2 separate regions of the Homo sapiens genome follow, and region 2 is linked to region 1. The links come from fine-mapping of genetic effects on gene expression. A gene starts in region 1. The other region holds a variant in brackets. All regions are shown on one strand. Distances are from middle to middle.

Region 1 (11,502 bases):
CAGCCGCAGCACCGGCCAGGATCTCCTGGAGGCTGGGGAAGGAGCGGTGTCGTGAATTATTTGTGAGGTGTTCAGACGAGAATGTATACTCCCCATAGCACACCATATAAATATGCTATTAATATACCCAAGGTGGCATGCATTATTCATGGAGCCTAATTAATTAATGGGTGGCCCCTTAAAATGGGGTGTCACAGCTTCCAGCTCCCTGTCCTGCCGGGGGCAGTAGGGATGGCATTGGTTGATGGCAGCCTTGGGGGTGGGGAGGGCAACGTCCCTTCCACGCTCTGCAGGGGGGCTGACGTGGTGCCCCACAACCGTCCACAGGGGTCCTGTGGGCAAGTCAGTTTGGGAACCACTGTGCAGTGTGTCCTCTCCCTGGAAGAGTGGAGGTGCGTATCAGGTGATGAAGGCTCTGAGAAGTCCCGCGGGAAACACCACTCGGCCAGGACACCTCCCTTGGTTCTCTCTCACGCCCTCTGCATTCCCGAACCGCCTCCGCCTCCCAGACTCAAGGATCCGATTCTGTTCCAGCTTGGCCCAGCAGCCTTGGTCAGGTGACGTTCAGGGTTGAATCCACTGGTGGAAGGAGTCAACCCCTCATAAGCCTGCCCCACCCCTCCGGGTGTGGCACCTGGGTCCCCACCTCTGCAGCGCCTCTTGGGGACCCAGGAGCTAAGCTAATGCAAGCCAAGGTGGATGTTTTGGACTGAAATGAGCGATGCCTCAGGCCATGTCCTCCCTGGGTCCCCAGCACGGGCCCTGCCACCCTGATGGGCTGAGAGACCCCTTTCTCCCTGCCTCCATCATCTTTGAGGGGTTCAGAACACGTGGAGGCTGGAAGTGGGGAAACAGGTCATCTGGCCTGGAAGTCCTGTCCTGGACCAGGGTGTACACTTGGGTAGGACACCAGCTGGGCCGACCTTCTCCCGGGCCTCACCTGGTGTCAGAGTCAGGGCCGCTGCCTGAGAGGGCAGGCTGAAACGGGGGGCCTTCTCCCCTCCCTCCTCCCCTCCTGTCTCCTCCCCTCCCTCCAGTCTCCTCCTTTCCTCTCAGAACCTCAGTTTTTTGAGGTGCAGAATCAATAGAGCCATTTATTTTGTAGATCATAAACAGGGTCTTGTTTTGTCACCCGGGCTGGCGTGCAGTGACATGATCACAGCTCATTGCAGGCTCGACCTCTCAGCCTCCATCAATCCTCCTGCCTCAGCCTCCTGGATAGGTGGGAGTACAGGTGTACACCACCACACTCGACTAACATTTTTGTATTTTTTGTAGAGGTGGGGTCTTGCTATGTTTTCCAGGCTGGTCTTGAACTCCTAGCCTCAAGCAAACCTCCCACTTCAGCCTCCCAAAGTGTTGGGATGACTGGCATGATCCCCTGCACCCAGCCAATCTTGGGTTTTAAACCCACAGCCAACCCACACCCATATATGTATGTGTACACACACACACATTAATGTCTCTGTCACCCAGTCTGGAGTGCACTGGTGTGATCACAGCTCACTGCAGCCTTCTGTTCTCATGTGATCTCCCGCCTCAGCCTCCTGAGTAGCTGGGACTACAAGCATGAGCCACAACACCTGGCCCAGAGCCACTTTTTTTTTGGGTGGCGAGCGGCAGGGTGGGGAGAGTCTTGCTGTGTCACCCAGGCTGGAGTGTAGTGGTGTGATCTCAGCTCACTGCAACCTCCACCTCCCGGATTCAAGCGATTCTCCTGCCTCAGCCTTGCAGGTAGCTGGGACTACAGGCATGTGCCACCATGCCCGGCTAATTTGGTATTTTTAGTAGAGACGGGGTTTCACCATGTTGGCCAGGCCGGTCTCAAACTCCTGACCTTGGGTGATCGTCTCAACTCAGCCTCCCAAAATGCTGGAATTACAGGCATGAGCCACCACCCCTGGCCCAGAGCCACTTTTAAAGGGTGGCTGTAAGTATCAAATGACAATGTAGGCATGGAAATTGGTGGGAGAAGTTGGAGTAGGGGCCTAGCCGGGCCCTGCTGCCTGCACCCCTTCCTCCCGCAGCCCCTGCACCTCCTCCCAGTCCCCTGCACCAGCGACACCAGCCTATCTTCGAGTCTTCCTTCCTGCCGCAGGGCCTTTACAACTCCTGTTCCCTTTGCCCTTTCCCCTTCCTCTCCAACAAAGTGATTCCTACTTAGCTTAGCCTCCAGGTCTCAGTTCTCGTGGTCCTTCCTAGGGAGGTTCTTGCTCTATCTTCTGTCTCCCTCTCTTCTCCTCTTTCTTTCTCCCCTCTCTTTCTCTCTCTGTCTCTTTCTCCCCTTTTTCTCTCTCTCTGTTAGTCCCAGGCTGAGGTCATCATCATTTCTAAAGGGCCTGAAGTCTGGGCCCCCATCTGAGTCCCCATCCTGGGGCCTGTTGAGCTCACACCGCTCTTACCTGTTCCCCACCCCTGGGTACATCATGCTGCATTTATTGCGTGCCTGGGTGGGTACATCATGCTGCATTTACTGCGTGCCTGGCCGTGGGGTAGCCCTTGGTGGAAGGGGACCATGATGTCACTTTGCAGATGAGGAAACTGAGCCCGAGAGAAGGCAGTTTCCCAGTGAGGCCAGAAGGCAGCGGGTTCCCCGGGTGGAGGCTCTGTGTTGGACGGGGGAGGCGTGTGCAGAGTCCACATGGCAGCCCTGGGGAGCACAGATGGGGACCCTGGGAGCCTTCGGTGGCTCCAAGGGGCTTCAGGGTGGGGGTCTTGGAGGATGAGGAGGAGGGGCGGGTGCTGGGGGCCGGTGCGGGCGCAAAGCTCTGGGGTCAGCGTGGCAGGGTGCGGCCGGGGAGATGCAGCGTGATAAGCCTGCGGAAAGTCTGATAAGCAACCTGGACTTTATTCGAAGGACAGCCTGGGAGGCTCCCGGCAGGGGAAGGGCTTGGTCAGGCCTTCTAGAAAGATCCCTCGGGCTGCTGGGGAGGGTGGACTGTGGTGGCTGGAGGGGCAGGAGGCAGCCCTGTGGGCAGAGGCGGGGGGACAGGTCGTCTGGATGGGAGGGTGGCAGCCGTGGGCAGTGGGGAGAAAGGACCATTTGTTTGGGGGTGTCCTGGCTCCTGGCTTCGGGGACCCTGGAGGGACATGGTGTGTGAGGTGCTGGTGGGCAAACGTCACAAATGCTGCCTCCCAGCTCACTGGTGCCAGAGGGGGGCCGCGCAGGATGGGCCACGGGGTGACCAGTGAGATGGCTTTTTAAGTGTGCAGTGGTAAAAGTTCACGATAAAAGTGAAACCCAGGCCACCTCCCACACCACTCCTTTTAAGGGAGCTGGGCCCTAACGCCTGTCCACCCCTGTGTCCCCCATCCCCCACTAATTCCCCCCGCCCACTGCCCCGCTGCTTCTGCTTCTTGATCTCTCCCTTCTTTTCCAGCTCTTCCGGTTCTCCTAACCGTTGCCCTGGGAGTCAAGAAAACCCGGTGCCAGGACCGGCTCCGGCTGTGCTGGCACGATATCCCCTGACATCCGCAGGTCAGGGACTGTGGCGGAGCAGCGGTTAGGGCCAGCCACATTCCCAGGCCACAAGGGCTCCCTGCCTAGCAGCTGCTTGCATGCCCCTGGTGACGGGGAGCTCACCACCTACACACAGGCCTCACTGACACTTAGGCAGCTGGCCATGAACACTACGGTGTCTCACCAGGGACCAGCCTCAGAAAAGATCTGGAACAGCACCATTGGCTGGGGTTGGAAGACCTCAGTTTCTCCTCCTCCCAAGGGGCACAGAGAAGCTGCCCTGACTCCCTGCCAGGGGCTACTGCGGGAAAACACCTTCCTTCCTGCAGGCCCTGCCCAGACAAGCCCTGGCCCCACAGCCAGGAGGGTAGGCCCCCCTCACATGGCTGGTGTCAGTGATTCCGCCCTCGTCCAGCCCCCGTGGCCACAGACAAGGTTCCCCAAGGATAACGGGGCCAGGGGCCAGTCTGGGATAATTTAGGGCCCCAGCAGAGGGACTTTCCTTATTTCTTCTGTCACAGCTCAAAGTGGAAAATTGGAACTACCCTGCAAGTCAGCCTGAGGAATCTCCTGCCCCAGGAACAGATCCTGCCCACAGGCCCCCAGAAGAAAAGCACAGGCCAGCTGTGCAACTCCGGCTCCACGGCCCCCTTCCTGGCCTCAGTTTCTCCTCTGGCAATGCCCAGGCCTCACCTCTGCCTTGCCTGGAACCCCCGCTGGCATGTAGCGGCCTGGAAAGAGAAACCAGATGCGGACGTCCTTTGAAACCCTGAAACACAAGGCGCCTCCTGCTCCCCGGGAGGCCGGGCTGCCGAGGGCTGAGGCCCTAGACAGGGCAGGGTGTTCGAGCCTCAGTGTCCCCGTTTGTCAACGGCCTTTCCTGCCTCTTCTCCATGGCGGTGGGGTGAGATGGTGGTGGGAGGTGGGGCGGCGAAAAAGAAAATTCCAGGTCTCCGCAGGGGTCCAGAATGGCAGGACCCCCAAGCAGACCGCGCCCCTTCACCGGTTGGGGGTCTCGGCCCTCAGCGGCGGGGCGGGGCCTGGGGAGGGGCCAGGCGGCGTGGGGCGGGGCCTGTCGGGCGGGACCTGACAGCGTGGGGGCGGGACTTACCAGGAGGCGGGACGTGCCTAGGGCGCGAGCCCGTACTGGGGCCGGGCGGCGTGGGGCGGGGCCTCTCGGGAGGCAAAACCTGGAGGCTGGGGGCGGGGCCTGTCCGGAGTCGGGGCCTGCCTGGAGCGGGAGCCTGTGCCGGGGCCAGGAGGCGTGGGAACGGGGCCTATCAGGAGGCAGGACCCGGCGGCTGGGGGCGGGGCCTGTCGGGAGGTGGGGCCTGCCTGGGCGGGAGCCTATGCCGGGGCTGGGAGGTGTGAGGACGGGGCCTATCCGGAGGCAGGACTTGGCGGCTGGGGGCGGGGCCTACAAGGAGGCGGGGCCGGCGGGGGCGGGGCCGGGCTCGGCTTCTCTTAGGGACCCGGCACTCGTCGCCCTCAGTCCGGCTCAGCTGGGGCTGGGCGCCGTGGGTCTGGCGGTTCCGTAGCGGTCCCAGCGTCTGTCCCGCCGGCCGGGCGGTCGCGGCACAGCCGCGGGAAGGTGTCGGAGGGCGGTTCCGCCGCGCGGCGGGCGCGCCGCCCACATGGCGGCCATCAGGGCGCTGCAACAGTGGTGCCGGCAGCAGTGCGAGGGCTACCGCGACGTGAATATCTGCAACATGACCACGTCGTTCCGCGACGGCCTGGCTTTCTGCGCCATCCTGCACCGCCACCGGCCCGACCTCATGTAAGTCCTGCCTGGCGCCCTTTGATTCTTCTGCTGTTCGGCTGCGCGCTGACACGGGCGGGGAAACTGAGGCCCGGGCGGCTGGGGGATGGGGAGCCGAGGCGTGGGACTGGGCAGGCACAGCCCACCGTGCAGCCCCCCGAGGCTGTCCTCAGTGGCCTCAGTGTGCCCGGACACCGAATGCAGCTGGGCCAGAGCCATGGCATCCCCCGCCCGCCGGCTGAGTCAGACGTGACTCAGGGCGGCTCCTGGGCCCTGGCTTCAGTCCAGTCCCCCTCTGTGTCCCTGGGAAAGGCCAGCAGAGCTGCCTCTTTGGGCCCTCCGAGGCTCTCACTGCCCAGGGGCCTGGCCACCAGATGGGGTCCCTGGATAGCCCTCGTATGGGCACTGACCCTCCCCCAGCCTGTTCAGGCCCCTGGGGGGATGTGGCCAGGGCCACTGTGGGGGAGCGGCCAGTGCAGGGCAGGAAGCCCCCAGACCCCAGGTGCTGCTGCCAGCCGGGCCTCTGAGGCCCCGGGTGATAGGGCCCGAGATGGAGAACAGCCCCCATCTCTGGGAGCAGCAGGAGGTGGCAGGGGTTGAGGACTAGGCTGTCTCTCCCCAGGAGGGTCTTGGCGTGTGTAGCTGGGCAGCTGGCCCTGCCCGTTGCTGAATCTTGGCCCGAGCCTGGACCTGCTCCATTGTTTATTCACTCAGCAAACGCTCTTTGGCTAAATGACTGGGACCAGGCTTGCTGGGACAGAGATCTGTGTGTCGGGGCTGGGGGCCAGACGCTCAGGAAGGGGGGCCCTCAACGGCCACCTGCAGCCCAGGCACCTTCTGGGCAAAGCGTTCTCCTGAGTGTGTTTTTGGTGGGAAGGTCTCGGGGTTGGGAGGAGCCACAGGCAGCACCTGGGGCCTCTGTCAGGCCGCAGCTGTGCAGACCAGAGAACCGAGGCTAAGAGGAGGGGTCCTTGCTCAGGTCACACAGCCCCAGCCCGTTGCGCAGATCCGGGGCTCCTCCCCTGTGCCCCTGGACACTGTCCTGCCAGTCCCACTCTCTGCAGGAAGCTGGGGTCTTGAGCAACAGCCTCGGCCCCTGCTCTGAGGTTGTGACATGCATTCGTGGAGCCACCAGGGGCTTCCATTTGGCGTTTGGGCAGCAGCCGCTCTCCCTCGCCAGGAACGTGCCTCTGTTGCCCTTGCAGGCAGAAGATGCTGGGCACAAGGTGCGTGCTTCCACATGGAAAGCCTGACGCTGAGCTTTGAAGGAGAGGGCCAGGGACCTGGAGACTGGGAGAAGGACCCGGAATGGGGAGGAAGGCAGGCGAGACCCCACCCCCGGGGCTGCAGGGTCCTGGATGAGGCTGGCTGGTGGCTGAGCCCAGGCATCCAAGCTGGGGCCAGCCCGAAAAGCCTCTGGGGTGGGGAGAGGCGTTGCCACCGGCTGCTGGCCACCAGCTTCATGGATCACTGGTGTCGCCGGAGATTTGGGGCCCTCTGGTCCTGGGGAGCTTCTCTGTACTCCCTGCCGGCTCAGACGTGCCTGTGGGCAGTGCCCAGGGTGAGCACAGGTGCATGTGCATGCACTGGCACGGTGGTCGCTGTGTATCTCCTCAGTGCACTGACAGTTATTGAGTACCTGCTGTGTACCCAGCACTGAGTCCTGTGCCAGTTCCCCTCAGCCTCCAGATGCAGGGAGCAATGTTCCGGTCACAGAGACAGACAGGGAACAGGTAAATGAATAAAAGCCCAGGGTGGCTCCAGAGAGTGCAGAGGCCAGAACAGGAAGGAGGCGGGAGAGAGAGGAGGCCCTCTGCCCCCAGCTCCGGTGGGTGTGGAGTTACCCAAGCTGTGGCTGACTTGGTTCTGTCCCCACTGGACTGTCAGCTCCAGAGGGTGGGGGCTCTGTTTTGTTCACTGCTGCACCCCTGGTGCCTGGAACTGGGCTCGGTAGATACCAGCACATGGTTGGAGTTCTGCAGATAAGGGCCTTTCAGTTGGGGTTCAGTAGATATGGTAGGAGCTTAGTAGGTGCCCACGTGCAGAAGGACAGAGGAGAAGGCCATGTGCCCTTGGAGGCAGAGATCAGAGAGGTGCAGCCACAAGCCAAGGGTGTCCTGGGCTGGAAGAGGCAGGAAGGACCCTCCCCGAGAACCTCCTTAGGCAGCAAGGCCCAGCCCACACCTTGATGTCGGAGTCCGGCCTCCAGAGCCGTGAGAAAACAAATTCCTGGTGTTTTAAGCCCCAGAGTTTGTGGCAATTTGTTACGGCAGTAGGAAGAAGCTAGTACAGGCTTCCATGGGTGTTGGGGCGTGGGGGCCTCTGTAGACCCTGGCTGATGGAAAACCCGGAGTGTCATGGGGGTCGGGTGTGCACCAGGGTGTGGGGACATGCGCTTGTATGGGTGCCTGGGCCCTTTGCTTTTATTCCAGAGTTGGAGTCTCGCTCTGTCGCCCAGGCTGGAGTGCAGTGGCACCGTCTTAGCTCACTGCATTCTTGAACACCTGGACTCAAGCAATCCTCCCACCTCAACCTCCCGAGTAGCTGGGACCATGCCTGGCTAATTTTCTTATTTTTAATTTAATTTTATCTATTTATTTATTTATTTATTTATTTGAGACAGAGTCTAGCTCTGTCGCCCAGGCTGGAGTGCAGTGGTGCGATCTCAGCTCACTGCAACCTCCGCCTCCCAGGTTCAAGTGATCCTCCTGCCTCAGCCTCCCAAGTAGCTGGGGTTAAAGGGGTGCACCCCCACACCCAGCCGATTTTCATATTTTTTCTAGAGACGGGGTTTTGCCATGTTGGCCAGGCTGGTGTGTAACTCCTGACCTCAAGTGATCCATCTGCCCTCTTCAGCCTCCCAAAGTTCTGGGGTTATGGGCGCGAGCCACTGCGTCTGGCCTGTGTCTGGCTACTTTCACTCAGCATATTGTTTCTTTTTTAAATTGAGATGGGTTCTGGCTATATTGCCCAGGCTGGTCTTGAACTCCTGGCCTCAAGTAATCCTCCTGCCTCAGCCTCCCGAAGCGCTGGGATTACAGATGTGAGCCGCCGCGCCTGGCCCCTGGCTCTTTGGACGTGCCTGCCTCTGTGCCTTCATCACCCCCATCCCGTGCCCTCAGCCTCTGCTCCCTGCCGTACCTCTGGATGAGGTGGTGGCTGGGGTGGAGGTCTCCTCATGCAGCCCTTGGCTGTCCCTCCTGTCCCCAGTAGTCTTCAGGAAGGGAGGAAACGCGTGTGAGGGACAGGCACAGACCGGTTGTCCTCTCAGGGCAGCTCTGAGGTCAGACTCTGTGTGAGGCCCCGCCCTTGCCACCTCATTCCCCTCTCCTTCCAGTGAAGACCCCTTGACAGCAGAAGGGTGGACGTCCTGTCTCCCTGTCTGTAGCTCTGCCACCAGGAAGTCCTTCCCTTTGTCTGGCCTTAGTCCTTCCTGCTGCACGCAGAGAGCACTTCCGCTTGGCCCTCAGGGAGAGCAGCTGTGAAGGAACCAGCTCGGGCGCCAGGCCAGCCAGGTGGGGCACCCGGGCTCCTGGTTCTGCCTCTGCCCCACCGACCCCGGGTGGAGGGGGCGGGGATCCGGACATTCCTGTGTACCATGTTCCGGCTCCTTGAGCCACGTGTGACCACACTGGGGAGCCCCACAGGTACAGAGAGGTGTCCGTGAATCTCCGCTTTACGGCCAGGAAACAGGATCGCCCAGCCACGCCCACCAGGAGGTGGCAGGGTGGGCGGGTCCCCTGCCTGGTCAGCCTGCCTGTGCCCGCCTGCCCTGTCTCACCTGCGGCTGTGGGTTCTCTGCAGCCAGGCCTCAGGGCGCCTGCCCCCGGGCGCTGTTTCCATACTGGTGTCACAGGGCAGCTGGGCAGCCAGGTGAGCTCAGAAACCACCCAGAACAAACAGCCCCACCTCCCGCCTCACCTCCCTCAGCCAGTCAGCCTGTCGGGGCTGGAGCAGCTCTGCCATGGGCTGGCTCCTTTCATTCCTGGGCCCAAGCAGGTCTCCAGGCACAGCCCTCGGGCAGATGGGGCAGGGGGCACAGCGTGTCTGGGCTGGGAGGGAGCAGGGCTGGAGGGAGGGCAGGCGTTGTGCGTGGCGCAGGAAGCCGTCCAGCAGGTGGGAGAACATTGCGGCCTCCTTCTTGGGGTTCGTGGCTGGGGGCATTTGTCGGATTTGTGGCCAGGCCTTGGGAGGGTGTCGTGAAGTTGGGTCTCTGCTGCACCCTCAGTTCCAAGGCAGGGTCCCTTAAGTTTTCCTGGTCCCTGCAGCTCTGGAGGCGGGCTCAGGGCTGGGCCAGGAAGTGGGGGTGGCTGGGGCGGCCGCTGTGCAGTGCATGGAGCCCTCCAGCAGTGGCTCCCAAGGGTGGCGGGGCTCCCCGAGACACCACTATTGTTGGGGGCCAGGGGAGAGACTCACGCAGAGGCCCCCACCCAGAAGCTCCCAGGCAGTGCCCTCACTTCCTGGGCCAGGGCCGAGGGTGGGCTGACCTCCTCTCCCACGCGGGGTTGGGTCAGCAGGAAGCTGCTTGTGGACAGAGGCCTTCTGTTCCTGCCCCAGGGCCTGTAGCCAGACCTCTGTGGCCGCCTCTGGCCGGAACCCTCCAGGACGGGCGCGGGAGGGGGCTGCCTGTCCACCTACTGCAGGGGGACTGCCCAGGGCCCCACACTTTCCTTCCAGAGGCCCAGTGTGCAAGGTGGGGGCTCTGCGGCCTCCCCTCCCCAGTCGTCACCGCCCCCTGCCCACCCCCTCCTCTCCTGAGCTCTGCCTGGCCATGTCCTCGCTGTCTCTGAGGTTTGCTCCTTCCCCGAGTCCCCTCTCTGCCATCCCGACTGTGCCATCTGGTCCCTGTCTCTCTTGGGCCTCCCTCCACCATCTCCGCTGGGGTCTTCCTCTCTCTCTCCAGCTCTCTCTGTCCGTCCACCTGCCTCTCCCCACTCCCTCTGCTCCCTTCTCCGTGGGATTCTCTCCTGATGTGCTGGATGTGCCTCGGCTGGGGCTCCTTCCCTTCCAAGTCCTGCACCCCCCCGCCCTCCCCACTCCATGGCGGAATCTTGTTCCAGGAAGTAAACAGTGTGATGTCGGCCACCCAGGAATTTGGAGGGGGGTATACATTCCCAAGAGCCCCCAGAGGCGCCGGGGCAGAGGCCGGCTGGACTCCATGGGCTGAAGTTGATGGTCGTGGGTCAGTTAGAGGGGTGGTGGGGGCAGGTGTGGCCGGGCAGGGGCACGCACGGTGGAGAGTTGGCCAGGGCAAATCTTGTGACCGACACACAGACGGCAAATTCATTCCTTCAGCCAGTGTTGAAAGAATAAGTTACTGCCACAGAAATCTCACCAAGCACAGAACAAATGCATCACACGCATTTATAGGGCACCGACTGTGTGCCTGGCCCACGGTGTGTGTCTTGGAGCCGGGCCATGGTATACCTGATTTTAATTCTGAGGCTTCAAATAAGAGAAGATTAAACCCTGGAGGATGCCATGTCTCGGAGGTGGGCAACCTGCAGCCCCCATCCCACAGCCTGCAGGTTTGCAGCGGTGGCTGGGGCTGTGTCCCAGTTCCAGCCGTCTCACCATGGGTAGCTGGTCACTTGCTGAGTGGGGGGAAGCTGATGCATTTTTGTCCGGCAAGGACAGGGGTGTCCACCTGCTCAAGCTGCCCTTGCAAGGTCCCCCAAACGGGCGGTTTCAACAACGGAAAGTGTCCTCCCGCAGTTCTGCAGGCCAACGTCCCGGACGGAGGTGTGAGCAGGGCTGGGCCCTCCTGGGGGCAGGAGGGAGGATCTTCCCGGCCTCTCTCCTTGGCTCTGGGGTGGCCGTCTTCGCCCTGTGCCTTCACATCCTCTTCCCCTGTCAGTTTGTATCTGCATCCACATTTCCCTTTTATGAGGACACCAGCCATGGGACCAGGGCTCCCCGCAAAGAACCCTGTTTGAATTCTCTTATCTCCAAAGGAGGCAAAATGAATTCTCACCTCCAGAAAGACCCTGTCTCCAAATAAGGTCACGTGGTGGAATTGGAGGTTAGGGCTCCAATGTGTCATTTTCTTGGGGGGCTCCTGGAGACACGAGTGGGGTCTCCACCTGGCGATGTTGGTGGGGCTTGCGAGACGGTTCTGGCGGCGATTTCTGCCAGCATCGGGCCCCTGAGCTCAGCTGCTCAGGGGCCCCGGGGGTGTGAGCTCGGGGACAGCAAGGTGCATCTGGGGAGGGCCTGGCGGGTGCATCGGGCGGAGTGTGGGAAAAGCTGTTCTGTGCCGGGAGAGTGGAGCCATGGTCTGGAG
Region 2 (15,630 bases), 32 kb after region 1:
CGCCCCTAAGAGAGCCAGGGGCAGCTGGTGACCGTGTGGTCATGGTGGGGACCAGCCCTCCGGGGCACCCAGTCGGGGCAGGTTCTCACGTGGGAGGGCACAGGGCTTCCTGCAGGCTCGGAGGCCCAGGGCGGATTGTGGCCAGTGGAAGGGAAGGATGTTTCTGGCAGGGGGACTTGTGTGGGCCACGGCTGTGCGGCTGCGGCGTTGAGCACGGCCTCACTGTCCACCTGTCCCCTAGGCCTCCAGAGGAAGAAGTCCAAGTTCCGCTTGTCCAAGATCTGGTCACCAAAAAGCAAAAGCAGCCCCTCCCAGTAGTAGCCAGTAGGGCCGTGGGCTCGGCCCGGACCTGGCATCCGGACTTGGACTCGGGGCCATGGGCTTGGCCCGGACCCGGAACCCGGACTTGTACTCGGGGCCGTGGGCTCGGCCCGGACCCGGCATTCGGACTTGGACTCGGGAAGGGCCTCCTGTCCCTACAAGGGGCATGTGGACAGCAGGGACCTGCGCTACCGTCTGTGGTCTCAATAAAGAAACCGACCACATGGCCCCGGACTCCTACGTGCCTCCGTGTTTGCCTCGGTGCCCCTGGGCGGCCCCGCACCTGCCTGGGGTCTCGCCTGCCTCCCAGCTCTTGCCTGCAGGACGGACGTGCTCTGTGGCCTCGGGCAGGAGCCGACCCTCTCAGGGCCTGGCCCTCGAAGGTGGGCCCTTTCATAGCTTCCTGGCACAGATGGGCTGGTGGGAGCCTCAGAGGAGACGTCGGTACAGGCTGGAGACTTTGGGTGCTGGGTCGCCATGTATCCGTGGCCTGAGAGCTGTGACCTCGTTCTCCCAGGACTGGGGCTGGGATGGGGGATTGTAAGCAGTGGCCCCTGGTCAGGGAGACTTCCTGGTGGCCAGGGCGGGATGTGGGGTGCCCCATCCTTTCTGACCCCCACTGAGAGTGGATGTCGTGGGAGGAGCGCTGAGTCAGGAGTGCAGCGTCCCTGTAAGCCTCAGTTTGCCCATCTGTGCGGGGAGGGGCGGGCCTCAGCTGCTTGTTGCTGCGCTGTTTCAGCTGCTGTAGGAGCCTCTGCGGCGGTCCTGGGGAACCCTCAGCCATGGCAAAGCACCAGTGTTCTCCACCTGCTGGCTGGGGGGGTCGGGACCCCACGGGTCCCAGCAGGGCCAGAGCAGGTTCAGAGCCTGGAGCCCCTGCCGTGTGCGCGTGGGCCCTGGGGAGCTTGTGCTGGGCAGGCCTGTGGCATTCCATGGCCTTCACTGTGCCTTTGAGGGTCTCAAGACTCCTGGAACGTGAGCTGGGTGTGGGGCATGGAAGAGAGGGTGGGCTGGGGTGCACGGATGGAGCACAGCCTCTGCAGTCACAGCTCTGCTCCTGGCAGCTCTTTGGCCTCGGGCTAGGGCACTGCCCTTTCTGAGCCTTTGGTGACATAGGCTGCCTGGGGGCCGTGTGAGGATGAGAGGGGCCCACCGGTGTGCCTCGGGCAGTGATGAGGGTGGAGGAGCACGGAGGTGCTCTCTTGCCCTCTGCTGACAGCGAGACCCCCGCTGCCTCCCTCTGTACCCCCTGCTTCTGCCAGCCACTCGGGGCCCCCGTGGAGGGAAAGGGGCTCCCCCAGATGAGGCCATGGGTCACCTGCACACAGCAATGAGTGGGGAACGGGGTCGTGCTTTGCCTGGCCCTGAGGCCTCTCTTGGAGTCAGGCCACTGGGACCGAGTGTGTTGGTGGAAACTCCCTGTGCCCTCCGAGGACTGGGAGGCAGTGGCTGGCAGCAGTGGGACCCTGGAGCCCCCAGGAGACTTCTGCAGGGGGGGGTCTCACCTGGGTGTCGAGGAGTAGGGGTCTCTCGGTGGATGGGCAGGGTGTGCCCTATTGCAGGAACAGCATAGGCAGTGATCTTGGGAGCTTGAAGATGTGTGGTGGGGCAGGTTGGGGCGGGGCCGGGGTCAGGGTCAGGTGAGGCGGAGCGGGTGATGGAGAGAGAGGGGCTCTGTCAGGACCTGGGCCGGCAGGGACCTTCCAGGTGCAGCGAGGTGGCCTCGTTCCTCAGGCACTGGGTGCCTGGGGTGGTTCTGAGCAGAAGCCCCAGGGCCTCTGCTGTGTTAGGAGCATGACGCCGTGGAGGGCGGTCTGGACCGGGTCCCGGAGCTGAGCCTGTGGGTCCCCCTGGGATCTCAGCCCCGTGGGTCCCCCTGGGATCTCAGCCCCGTGCTCACGTCGTAAGGCCTGACCCGCGGCAGTGTGGCCTCTTCACCACCAGGGGGAGGCAGAGAGCCACTTAGTGGAGAGGGGCAGCCGGGAGCCTGGAATAGCTCCGTTTTTCAGACAGGGAAACTGAGGCTGGGAGAGGGCTACGGCTCTCCCACGTCACACAGCAAGCGAGGCGGGGCCAGGGCAGGGGGCTGCGTAGCATTTTTGAGACCAGAACGGGAAGGGAGTGTTGTCCAGCAAGTTAGGGGCGTGGGCACCTGGGGCTCGGTCCTGCTGTGGACTCACACCTGGGGGTGTCCCACCGCAGGGCCAGGAAGCTTCCGCCCCCACCATCAGCCCCCTGCATCTGGGGACCTCAGAAGCAGCCCTGGGGTGCCAGGTGCGCTCCAGGCTGGGCACACAGTTGGTGCTCAGTGATCAGAGCCCCTGCAACAAGTGGTCAGGTCTGCCAGGCACTAAGCCAGCCCTGCGGGATGTCCTTGCTGTCCACCAGGGGCCCAGCACCTGCAGACCCCGGTGACACCATCATGGAGAGACAGGCAGGAACGCAGCCCTGGGGCCATGGGCGTTGGCCAGGCCCTGTGATGCCTGTGCTGCCTGTGCTGCAGGAGGCTGTGAGGATGGGCGTGGGAACCCCTGAGCAGCCACTCGGGCACAGGTGGGGCTGGCTGCGCCGCCGCCCGGCTCCTGCAGAGGCTGCCCCAACCCCAATGTGGAAGAGTTTCAGCCCGGGCCCCACCCACCCTAGATGACCCCTCACAACTTTCAGGGAGGGCAGAGGCACGCAGTTCCCCAGTGGCCTGGCTGGACGTCACCCACACCTGCCAGAGACTCCGGGCCAGCGTCTCGTGCCTGTGCACGTGGCAGGCAGTCCATGCACATCAGAGGCTTTCTCTCTACAGACATGGCTAGGAACAGCCAGTCTTCCTGAATGGATATGGGGGTGGGTGGGGCCGCAGAGAAGGGGAAGAGCTGTTCCCTGACCCACATCCCCGTCGGCCCCTGTATCTGCACTGGCCTCAATACTACAGCCTCAGGTCTGGGGAGCAAGGGCTGGATTGAGGAGTGTTCTGGGCTCAGGGACCGGTGTGGTCCTTCTGGTGAGCTCTGGGGTGGGGAGCTGACACTGGCCCCGTGTGGCTGCGTCAGGAGGGACAAGGAGGGAGGCAAGGCTGGACCAAGCAGAGTCTCCACTGGGATGCTTGGAATTTGGACTTGGACTTGAGTGGCCCCTCCAGGCCGGGCACAGGGGGCCAGCCCAGCCATTACAGGGCACTGGTCTGTGGGAGGGTGGGGGCAGCTGGTGGGGACTTGTGTTCACCCCTTGCGAAGCCAGGGCAGGCTTGGGCTGATTCCCAGGAGTTCTTCCAGCCTCACCTCTGTCACCCTTGCCCCCTCCGCTCCGGCTGCCGGGCCTTGGCCACGGGCGTTTGCATTTGCTGGTCCTGCTCCTGGGGCCCCTGCACTCCACATAGCTGGCATCCTGCTATCTCTGCTTAACTGCCCTTTTCGGAGAAGCTCCTGCCCCTCACCCTGATTTCTTTCTTTCTTTTTAGAGACAGGGTCTCACTCTGTTGCCCAGACTGGGGTGCAGTGGCGTGATCACGGCTCCCTGCAGCCTTGACCTCCTGGGCTCAAGTGATCCTCCCACTTCAGCCTCCCGAGTAGCTGGGACACCCGGCGCACGCCACCACGCCCGGCTAATTTTTAAAGTTTTTTTTTGTGGAGACACGGTTTTGCCATGTTGCCCAGGCTGGTGTTGAACTCCTGGCCTCAAGCAATCCTCCTGCCTTGGCCTCCCAAACTGCTGGGATGACAGGCGTGAGCACACGGCCACCCTGGTTTATTGCCAACACTCGGAACGCACCTATGTTTAGATGCTTGTTTGGGCTTCCTCTCTGTGACGGATCCTCCGGAGGTCCCGGCTCCTCCGTCTTTCTGCCACGCCATCCTCAGCGCCTAGAACAGTGCCTGACACACGGCAGGAGCCTGATGAGGATTTGTTGAATGAATGAATGACACCAGGGCTCAACGCCACTCCAGGACTCAGTCTTCTCACCTGTCAAGGGGGCTAGCACCTGGCCCAGGGTTGCTACCTGGTCCACTGGTCCAGGGAGACAGACCTGCTTGAGCCTGACTGGTTTCGTACTTGTGGGACCCCCGGGGCTGCCCCTGCCCTGCCCGGGGTGGGAGGATTGAATCAGGTCTCGTGGGGTGGGCAGTGGAGCCACTGCCAGCGGGCACACACCAGGCACCTCCTGCCCTACCCAGACTTGGGCTGAGCAGGGGAGGGACAGGGAGGGACTCGGGAAGAGAGCACAACGTCTCTTGGGGGATTTTCCGGGCATCCCACAACGGGGGGCTGCCCTGTTCCCTGGGGCCCAGAGAGGGAGCCTGGCCCTGGCCCCGAGTGATGAGCACAGCCCGGCCGGGCCCAAAGACCGCCCCCCACCCTGATCTGTGTAAGCTGCGGGTCCCGGCCGGGGCCTGGGAATGTCATAGCTGGTCTGCCCCGCAGGGAGCGGGGAATTGACATGCAGAGCAGACCTCAGCCGCTTCCATGGTGGGGCCCCCTCACCCCTGCCGCCCC[A/G]TCTGCCCTGCCCAGGCCTCCTGCTCCAGCCCCGCCCCGATGCACAGGAACTGGCTTGGCCCTTCCCACAGCACCTCAGCTACCCCCAGACCCGTTTTCAGAGGAGGGTGTTGAGGCCAGAGAGGGGAGGGACCTTCCCAGTCCCTGAGCCTGCCAAGGTGGGCCCAGCTTGGGGTGGGGACAGAGGGGCTGCTCCTGGCTGGGGCAAGAGTTGGAGGGGTCTCCGATGGGGGCATGGCCACGCCCTGTGCCATGAAGCCCCTCACAGAAACTAGGGAGTCGTGGGCAACACCCTGTCCCTGTGACAGGAGGGGAAACTGAGTCACGGAGTGCCCAGGGCCCCATGGCAGGAGTGGGCAGGGCCTGGTTCTTGTGCCTTGGCCTCCATCTGGGAGGAGGCAGGGAGCAGAGCTCAGACTCCTCCCAGTGAGGGCCCCCCATGTGGCTCTGCTGCACGGCCCCAGTTGGGGGGCTCCCTGGGTGGGGGGGCTCTGGGAAGCCCACAGTTACCCCCAGGTAGAAATGTCTGTGGCCTGCACCTCTGCAGCCTGGCCTCCTTCCAACCTCGAGCGGCCGCTGTGAGGGTGTCTGGGAAGGAGGAGCTTTTCCTGTGTCTTCTGGCTTCTTCCTGCCCCTCCACGTCCTTCCAAGGCCTCACGGGGACCCCAGGGACAGCCATGCCTTGCTTCTCTCGGGTGAATCATGGAGAAGGGGCCTCCTCTGGAGCCCAAGACGCAGGGGGGCTGAAGGGGTCTCCTCTGGAGCCTGAGACGCAGGAGGCTGACGGCTGCCATGCAGGCTTGCTCCCCAGCGGCCATTCCCTGCCAGGCCCACCCTCACCTTTGTGGGGCCCGGGAGAGAGTTGAGCCCGAAGCTCCCCCCACTTCTCCTCCCCGGAAGCCCTGTTTAGCTTTGGGAGGGAGGAGCCTCCCACCTCGGGCCTGGGAGCCTCCACGCCAGGGCTGGGAAGGCCTCAGGAGGACTCGAAGGGGGTTTCAGGGTGTGCGCTCAGGGAATTCTGGGGTCCCGGGTGCTGGGGCATCAGGTGGGAGGTGGACATGAGCTCTGGGTGGCCCCCTCGGCCCTGCAGACCCCGCCAGGAGGGGCACAGCCAGATCATACGTCCGGGCCCTGCTCCTGTCTGCGGGCCTCCTGCTGGGTGAACCTCCCTCACCCTGAAGCTGCCCTGGCTCCTACTGGTCTGGAGCTTGGACTCCCAGGGCCCTGCTCCCCGGGGACCCTCCCGGCAGAGGCCTTTGTCTGGCTGGCTGTGATGGGTCCTGACACCCCATCTGTCTGTCTGTCGGTCCACCTAGGTGTTTCCCCCCGGGCCGGCCTGCCGTGACGATCACAGCCCTGCCGTCTCAGGTCACGGTTTTGGATTCTGCGCTAACGAGGTCTCCCAGGTGGGCTGGAAACACTGATGAAGACGGATAGAAAAAACACCAGCCCACCGGATTATTAATAAAGATAATCACACACACCCCTTCGTCGGCAGCCGGCCTGACACTTTATAAAGCACGTTAGGATATAATCCAATTGAAACTGCAATATCGAGAACATCTCATCTTATCACAAATTGAAATTATATCACATTCCTCTTTTCTTAAATTAAAAAGCTAAAACCTTTTCGTTTGCTCTCACACAGTTGTGTAAAACTTAATCAGTGGTTTTAACAACATTATATTTCCATATGGGCCATTTCTAGTCTCGACTTACGGGGGAGAACTTTCCAGAAAAGGGGCGATTGGTTTTGTGAGCAGGAGCAGCAGGCCCGGGGTCAGTGCCTGGCAAGATGGACTTGGCCTCATCTGCACACAGGCGGTGGCTGGGATCAAGGTCCGAGGATATACCAGGGACGGCGGAGGGATTTCAGCAGATGCATGTTCCCATTTTAAGAATTGCCACCTTAAATATTATATATATATATATATAGAGAGAGAGAGAGAGAGAGACAGTCTCGCTCTGTCGCCCAGGCTGGAGTACAGTGGCACAATCGGCTCACTGCAACCTCCGCCTCCCAGGTTCAAGTGATTCTCCTGCCTCAGCCTCCCGAGTAGCTGGGATTAGAGGTATGCGCCACCACACCTGGCTAATTTTTGTATTTTTAGTAGAGACAAGACTTTCACCATGTTGGCCAGGCTGGTCTTGAACTCCTGACCTCAGGTGATCCGCCCGCCTTGGCCTCCCAAAATGTTGGGATGACAGGTGTGAGCCACTGCGCCCGGCCACCTTAAATATTTAAGAGGGAGAAGGATGCAGTCACACAAGTCACAGCAAATTGAAAGCCGAGGAGAGCAGAAGAGGCAGGCCCGGGGACACAGTCCCAGAAAGCCACCCTTGGGGCCAGCGGGACGGAGGCTGGGTCTAACACTAAGTGGCCTGGAGGCCCAGAGGACAGGGACTCGGCCTGCAGGGGCGGGCGTGGAAGCAAAGACTTTCTGCTTCAGTTTTGCACTTCAACAAGGCCCTTTCCCTGGTAGCCGAGAGCAGCTGTTGGGGGTTTCGCGGTCTCTAAGATGAAAAGAAGCCATCAGGCTAGCAATTATAAAAATGTATTTATTTATTTATTTTTGGGACAGGGTCTTGCTCTGTTGCCCAGGCTGGAGTCCAGTGGTGTGATCATAGCTCACTGCAGCCTTGACCTGCTGGACACAAGCGATCCTCCCACCTCAGCCTCCGAAGTGGCTGGGACTCTAGGCGTGCATCACCACGCCTGGCTAATTTTTTAACTTCTTGTAGAGATGGGGTCTCACTCTGTTGCCCGGGCTGGTCTTGACCTGCTGGACACAAGCGATCTTCCTGCTTCAGCCTCCCAAATTCTGGGATTACAGGCATTTTTTTGTAGAACTGGGGTCTTGCTATGTTGCCCAGGCTGATCTCAAACTCCTGGGCTCAAGTGATCCTCCTGCCTCAGCCTCCCAGGTAGCTGAGGCTGCAAGCATGAGTCACCGTGCCTGGCTCTCGCTTCGTTCTTTTTACTTTTTTTAAACGCAGCTACTAGAAAATTGAAAATGGCAGGTGTGGCCCATTCATTGTGGCTCGGGTTCCATTTCTGTGGACGGGGGTGTTCTGGCACATTGCAGGGTCTCCTGAGATCCTGCTCACCATTTTTGGGGTGTCCACCATCATGGTAGCCCCTCCCTCGTCCACATCCTGTCCGTTTTCTCCCACACGATTTCCTGGGTCTGAGCGTTCCCCTCCACCAGCCCCTGACTCCAGGACTCTCCGTGTCTCCCCACCCTCCCCAAGTGAGCTCAGTGTTTTGGTGGCCCCTGCAGAAGCCCTCTGGGGTTTCCTGTTACACTCTAGGCTAAGTCCAGCTTCACAGCAGGACCCTGTCCCCCCAGGACCCCATCAACCCAGGCCCACACACACCCCCATGGGATGAAACTAGTGGGTGCTAGTCACGGGGAGATTCTGTCCCGTGGACGCCGCCCACGGCCACATCATTGAAGGTCCAGGTGGGCAGCCTCGGCCGCTGTCAGCGCTCTCCCGGAAATGTTTGTTCATCCTTTCGTCCTTCATTCCATCCTTTTTGTTCCTGAGATGGAGTCTCGCTCTGTCACCCAGGCTGGAGTGCAATGGCACGATCTTGGTTCACTGCAGCCTTCGCCTCCCGAGTTCAAGCGATTCTCCTGCCTCAGCCTCCGGAGTAGCTGGGATTACAGGCGTGCACCACCATGCCCAACTAATTTTTGTATTTTTAGTAGAGATGGGGTTTTGCCATGTTGGTCAGGCTGGTCTCGAACTCCTGACCTCAGGTGATCCACTGGCCTCAGCTTCCCTAAGTGCTGGCATTACAGGTGTGAGCCACCACATCCGGACCCTTTGTTCCGTTCTTTTAATTGAGCATCTCCTCCATGCCAGGCCACCCGCTGGTACCACAGCCCCACACCAGCAAGAGACCCACCAGCTCCTGTCCTCGAGGACCTGGTGGAGGCATAAAGAGAATGGCAGTCCTGGGGGCCGGGGCTCTGCAGGGACGTGGGGCCCTGGGGAGGGTGCTGAGGGGAGGGAGAGGCAGCCTGGTGGGAGGGCTGCGGCTGAGCCAGGCAGGGGCCCTGAGGCCAGGGAGAGTTGCAAGTTCTGGCCAGGCATGGACTCCGTCCGAGTGGAAAGGCTGGGAGAGGTCAGAGGGGCAGGATGGTGGGGTGGGGCCCGGAGGGCGTTAGGTGGAGAGACATGGGACCAGGGTGGTCTTCGACGCCAGCTCTGGCTGTGGGTGTGAGGTCCAGGGGGCAGAAACCAAGGACATATAACCCCCTCGCTGACATCCAGGGCCCACCAGGTGTGGCCTGCTCTATCCTCATTGGCCAGAATATAGTCACATGGCCAGGGCAGGCTGCAAGGGATGCTGGGGAATGTAGTTCCCTCTGGGGCTTGCTGTGGCCGCTAAAAGGGGAGGTGGGGAATGGATATTGGGGATGCATGAGTGATGTCTGGCTGCAGTGACAAAGTACCGAAAATGGGGGGCTTCAAGGAACAGTTAGACTTCTAGAGGCCAGAGTCTGAGATCAAGATGTGGGCAGGAGGCCAGGTGCGGAAGCTCATGCCTGCCATTCCAGCACTCTGGGAGGCCAAGGTAGGAGGATCGCTTGAGCCCAGGAGTTTGAGATGAGTCTGGGCAACATAGTGAGACCCCATTTCTACAAAAATTTTTAAAAATTAGGCCAAGTGTGGTGGCTCACGCCTGTAATCTCAGCACTTTGGGAGGCCGAGGCAGGTGGATCACCTGAGGTCGAGAGTTTGCGACCAACATGGAGAAACCCTGTCTCAACTACCAATACAAAAATTAGCGAAGCATGCTGGCACACACCTGTAATCCCAGCTATTTGGAGACCGAGCTGGGAAAATCGCTTGAACCCGGGAGGCGGAAATGGCAGTGAGCCGAGATCAGGCCACTGCACTCCAGCCTGGGTGACAGAACAAGACTCTGTGTCAAAAAAAAAAAAAAATAAAATAAATAAAATAAAATAAAATTAGCCAGGCATGGTGGCATGCACTTGTAGTCTCAGCTACTCAGGAAGCTGAGGGGGGAGGATTGCTAGAGCCTGGGAGTTTGAGGCTGCAGTCAGTCACGATCGTGCCACTGCACTCCAGCCTGGGCGACACAGTGAGACTCCATCTCAAAAAAAAAGAGAGAGGGTTGAGTTTAGGTTGAAGGTAGCCAATCTGAAAGCTCAAGGCAGGAATTAGGGATTTGCTAAGGGAACCCTTCTTTCTGAAGTCAGAATCTACTGATTAAGGGTTCCATGAGGCAGTGCTTTGCTGTGGTGAGAAAGGCAGTTGTTGTGGTCCAAGCTACAGCTGGTACCAGCAGAGGAAAGAAAATCAAGGGTTCAGCAGAAGAAAGTCTTGGGATTCTAAGTCCGCTGGAAACCTCCCATTAAGAACATAGTATGATTATGTGGCAGACACAGCCCCCAACTTTGCTGGATGCCATCTGGTATTTGGGGTGCTGTGGTGGTACACAGGACTCACGGTGCCACAGCAGCCAGTTTGGGACCATGAGGGATGGTAAGGCCGCCAAGCAGAGACGAGCTGGGCAGAAACAGGGAAGGCTGCTGGGTCTTTGCTGACCTCCTGTTGGTGTCACTGAGCCCTGAATTAGCCAGTCTAGAACCTTCTTATGTGTAGATTTCTTGTTGGGAAGGATAATGAATCCAGGGTCGTGTAAGCCTCTTTGACTTGAATTTCCTGAGAGCCAAGTCAACACCCTATTGGTTTCCATTGATGTCACGCCGACGGGATGTCCTTCAATTCCCCACACCGTCTGCGCTGGGGCCTGGGGGTTGTCCAGCCCCGTCCACTCTCTTGAAGTCAGTGGGGATGCTGAGGCCCAGGAAGCAGAGTTGCCATCCCATCCCCGACCAGGGCAGAGCCACTGGGCCAGCCTCCTGCGCCATGGCCCTCCCCAGGCCTGCACTGGGTCTGGGGCCACCTCCCTGTTGTGGGACCTTTGCAAGACCCCGTTTTCCATGGAAGTGAGGACAACAGTGACAATGACACGCCTCCCCAGGCGTAGCCCCTTCTTCTGACCTTGAGTCAACCAGTCCCCAGGAGGGTGGGCGGGATGGGGCTGGGGAAGGTGAGCTTGACAGCTTCTCCACGTGCTGCTCCTGCCGCCTCTTCCCCCTCACTCCCAGCTCAGTCTGTCTCTCCCTCCCTCTCTGTCTCTGTCTCTCCCTCCCTCTGTCTGTCTCCCTCTCTCCCTCCCTCTCTGTCTCTCCCTCCATCTGTCTCCCTCTCTCCCTCCCTCTCTCTGTCTCCCTCTCTCCCTCCCTCTCTGTCTTTCCCTCCCTTTCTGTCTCTGCCTCTGTCTCTGTCTCTCCCTCCCTCTCTGTCTCTGTCTCTCCCTCCCCTTCTGTCTCTGACTCTGTCTCTGTCTCTCCGTCCCTCTCTCTGTCTCTCCCTCTGTGTCTCTGTCTCTGTCTCTCCCTCTCTGTCTCTCTCTCCCTCCATCTCTCCGTCCCTCTGTCGCTCCCTCCCTGTCTCTCCCTCCATCTCTCTGTCTCTGTCTCTCCCTGTCTGTCTCTCCCTCTCCCCCTCTCTCTGTCTCTCTCTCCCTCTCCCTCTCTCCCTCTCTGTCTCTCTCTCCCTCTCTCTCAGTCTGTTTCTCTCTCTCCCCCCTCTCTCTTCCTCTCCCCACTCCCCCTTTTCTCTCCCTCTCTGTTACTCCCACAGTTTCCCTGTCATTCTCTGCAATGTGGGCTCATCCATTCTGCTTCCAGCAGGCTCAGAAAGTTCTGCTTCTTATCTGACCACTGCAGAAGGCTGAGATGCCGCCAGGTGCCACTTCGTGTCTTAGGGTTGGATGCAGGGGCTGGGGGTGCCCCCTTCTCCTTGGCTTAGGCTGACCTGGGTGTGCCTCCGGCCAGAGCTCTCAGCCGGGCTCAGAAGGCCCCAGGGACCGTGGGAAGCTGTCGTTGCTTGGAGCGGGTGAGGCCAGACCAGAGCAGCCAGCAGCGCTTGGCGAGGCTCCAGGCAGCAGCCAGGTAGCCAGCTGCGCTCCTCCCTCCCCTGGAAGTGGGGGGCCCCTGGGGGACCCCTGTGTCACATGACCCATCAGCTGACAAAACAGGATGACTCAGCCAGCAGCTGTCGGCCCCCTGAAATAATGACAAAAACAATTAGCAATCCAAGCAGTAGCCTTTCCTTAATTATCTCCTCCGAGTTTAATTAACTAGCTAAATTATCAGCAGTAATGTAGGCATTAATTATGTCAAATTACAGTGTAAAACTCACAAAGTGTGGAAAATGTCAATTCAGCTTGGCTCACCTGCCAAGCGGGGGTGGCGAGGGCGTGCATGTACCTGTGCGAGTACCTGTTTGTGCCTCGGGGCCGGCGGGGCCATCAGGGCTGGGGCAGGGGGCAGGGGGCAGGGGGCAGCGTCTGCAGGGCTGGACGGAGGGAAGACACCGGGGACAGGGCGGGTGGGGCCCTGGGGACACCGGCGGGGGTGATGGGGAAGCTTTGGCTCAGACTGAGGGAGGGAAGGGAGCCTGTTCCCGGACCAGATGGCCAAGATGCTGAATTATTAAATTATGAATATTAATACAAATCAGACACAAAAGAGGTAATAATTTTGCTGCCCTACAGAAATAATTAACATAATTTTGATAAATTACATGATAAGAGAATCTCAAAATTGAGGTAGATTTATCTTAATTAATATCTTGGACCAGCTCCGAAAGGTAAATTGTTCCTTGGGGGGTTGGGGCAGAGTGAGGCTGGGGTGGGATTCGGCCCCTGGCCAGGGCCCTGGTCTCTTTCTGTCACAGAGGCTGGGGTGGGGGGACAGGGTGGGAAGATTGAGGACCCAGTCTGACTCAGTTGCACTGGAGCACCTTAGGCGAGGGGCGGCCCTCTCTGAGCCTCAGTTTCCCTTTCTGGGAGCCTGGGTGGCCGGCCCAGCTGGCCTCACGGGGCCTTCAGCGGGGACTGGCTGGGAGCTGTGGCTTTGGCCAAGCTTTTGCCACCCAAATGCTCTGGCCGAGCCCGGGGACACCTGCCCTCCAACTGAGCCACACACCTGCCTATTTACCTGTGCACACCTGGCCAGGGAGACTGAGGACCCAAGAGCTCGTCCCAGCAGCTTGTCCCATTTCTGAAGGGTCTGGGCCAGGCCTCATCCTCTTCAAGCCTCAGTCTCCCTTTGGTACAATGGGAGTTGGGCTGCACAGATGCTGAAGACTGTTGGCCACCCCCTCAGGTCTCACTCCGTGCCACTGCCATCCCTCTGCGGGGCCAGCCAGTCTTGTGGTATGGGGGGCAGTTAGCAAACCTCCAAAGATGGGGAACCAGCCTTGTGCAGGGGCACCAGGGCACCCAGGACCCCGCCGGTCCTCAGACTCTAGCAGCCTGGCCTCCCATGTCCTGGGACCACAGACAGCCCCTCAGGTGCTTGTCACCCAGAGGCCAGGGCTGTGTCAGGGCATGGGGCACCTGTGTGGCTTTAAGGCCTGCCATCTGCCCCCTGGCCCTCGGGACACCCTGCCGTTTGCTTACTCTGGCAGCACTGGCCTCTGCAGGTTTCGGACAACCCGGGCACACTGCCTGATGGCCCTGCTGTCCACAACATTCTGTCCTGGAGTGGTCGCCCCGACCTCCCCAAGTCTTCAGTGGGTCTCCCTGACCACCCCCGACGAGGGCAGGGACTTGATCTGTCCACTCGCCGCTGTATACCCGGGGCCTGGCACATAGCAGGTGCTCAGCAAAGTGTCACTGAATTGATTTGTTGATGAACACAACGTCTTTCGTGCGAGGTATACATCACATCTGATGTGTCAGACACCGTGCACGGCACCCACTAAACATCCGGCCACATCCGCGTTCCAGGTCCCGTCCCAGGAGCCGGCCGCATCCCCGTGGTGAGCGCTGCACGCCTCTGCACCCTGCCTTCCGAGGCACAGAGCCGCCTTCTGCACAGTCCGCACTCTGTGTCACATGCGGGAAATGACACGCTCCACCATCCGTGAGCCACGGAGCCCGGAGACTGTCCCCCGCGTTGAGTAGGGTGTGGCCCCCTCAATTCCTGGCACGGGACGCCCATGGGATGCGTGTTACGTATCAGTCACATCACACACATGTGCATACTAAGCCAAGGAGGCTAGGCTCAGGGCCTGGGTTACCCCCAACCCTGGAGTGTGTGCACACTCATGATTATACGTGGGTGTTCATGCAAGCACGTGTGTTCATGAACGGGTTTTTGGTTTTTTTTTTTTTTTTTTATGGAGTCCGGCTCTGTCGCCCAGGCCTGGAGTGCAGTGATGCGATCTCAGCTCACTGCAACCTCTACCCGCTGGGTTCAACCAATTCTCCTGCCTCAGCCTCCTGAGTAGCTGGGAATACAGGCACACGCCACCACGCCCAGCTAAGTTTTGTATTTTTGGTAGAGATGGGGTTTCACCATGTTGGTCAGGCTGGTCTCAAACTCCTGACCTCAAGTGACCACTCACCTCAGCCTCCCAAAGTGCTGGGATTACAGGCGTGAGCCACCGCACCCGGCTCATGGAGGTTTTTCCTGAGTGCAAATGTATGTGCCTGTTCTTACAAGAGAAATAGATGGGGCCGGGCGTGGCCTGTAATCCCAGCACTTTGGGAGGCCAAGGCAGGCAGATCACGAGGTCAGGAGATCAAGACCATCCTGGCTAACACGGTGAAACCTCACATCTACTAAAAATACAAAAAATTAGCTAGGCGTGGTGGCGGGCGCCTGTAGTCCCAGCTACTCGGGAGGCTGAGGCAGAATGGCGTGAACCCGGGAGGCAGAGCTTGCAGTGAGCCGAGATCGCACCACTGCACTCCAGCCTGGGCGACAGAGCGAGACTCTGTCTCCAAAAAAAAAAGAGAGAGAGAAATAGATGGGGAGAGGCACTGAGTCACCGAGTCATCCTTTCTGCCCCCTGGCCCTCTGTTTCCTCGCCTGTGTTGGAGCGAGTTCTGACTACAGGTGCCGCCGGGAGGAGCCTGGATCATGCTCTGTAAAGCAAGGTGGTAGCAATGTCCCCAGACCATGAACTCCCAGAACAGCAGCCAGGCCCAGCTAAGGGAACTTCCTCCAGACCAGGACTGGGACACAGGAGCCTCCACTGTTTGGAGGAGGAAACCGGGGCTCCGAGGAGTTCAGGGACCCTCCAGGGTTGCACGGAGCAGGCAGGTGGAGGGAGCTGGTGGCAGCCAGGTTGGGCTGGGCAGGAAGCAGCCACCAGGGGAGCCACCTGGCCATACTGGTGGGTTTCCTGCAGCCTGGCCAGCTCTGGACTCTGCCGCTCCAACAGGCCTGGAGGAGCTGAGGCGGCGACCTGGCCCTGCCAGCAGAGGAGGTGGGTGCATTCAGGGATGAGGGGCACATGGTGGGCATGCTGGTCAGCCTTGCCAGACCCTTACCCCTGCCCTAGCCGGAATCAGAGGCCTCCCCCAACACCTGCCCCCCCCACCTGGACATGGCTTCTTCCAAGAACAGGGTGCTTACTACCTGCCAGGGCTGCTCCGAGCAGGTATAGCAATGGAGACCATGGCCTGCTTACCTCCCAGCAGAGGGGAACAGGCAATGCACAGACGCACACATGTACAGAGCGTGTGGCCTCAGGTCCCGTGAAAGGCCCATGGCAGGTGGAGAAGAGCAGAGGCCGGGCAGTGCTGTGCTGTCAGGGCAAGGCAGGGCACACCCCGTAGGGTACGAACCTGCAGGTGCAAAGGCCCGGGCAGGTGGAAGTGGTGCAGAGACAGCGAGGAGGAGGAGGGCGAGGAGGAGGAGGAGACGGGGTTATGGGAGCTGGAGGGGTAACAGGGCCCGGAACACTGAGTGCCTTGAGACT

What was found.
Region 2: its variant is fine-mapped to the expression of MICALL2 in esophagus mucosa (GTEx, PIP above 0.99).

Annotation. Positions count from the first base shown.
Region 1 is chr7:1,452,919-1,464,420 of GRCh38, reverse strand. MICALL2 (MICAL like 2) reads left to right here and starts at 4,951. Exons shown (of 17, transcript NM_182924.4): 1 at 4,951-5,237. The coding sequence starts at 5,095. It overlaps MICALL2-DT (MICALL2 divergent transcript), which reads right to left and starts at 4,502. Exons shown (of 2, transcript XR_001745046.2): 1 at 4,154-4,502; 2 at 1-579. RefSeq lists enhancers at 3,194-3,488, 3,025-3,576, 3,577-4,128, 5,552-6,274, 6,275-6,997 and silencers at 4,459-5,178, 9,614-9,908.
Region 2 is chr7:1,419,284-1,434,913 of GRCh38, reverse strand. It overlaps MICALL2 (MICAL like 2), which reads left to right. Exons shown (of 17, transcript NM_182924.4): 17 at 242-555. The coding sequence ends at 318. Among named protein-coding and RNA genes, the nearest start is that of MICALL2, 32 kb to the left of the region's middle. RefSeq lists enhancers at 5,816-6,371, 14,673-15,343, 15,344-15,630 and a silencer at 11,507-11,801. The variant A/G (reference allele first, on the strand shown) is at 4,807.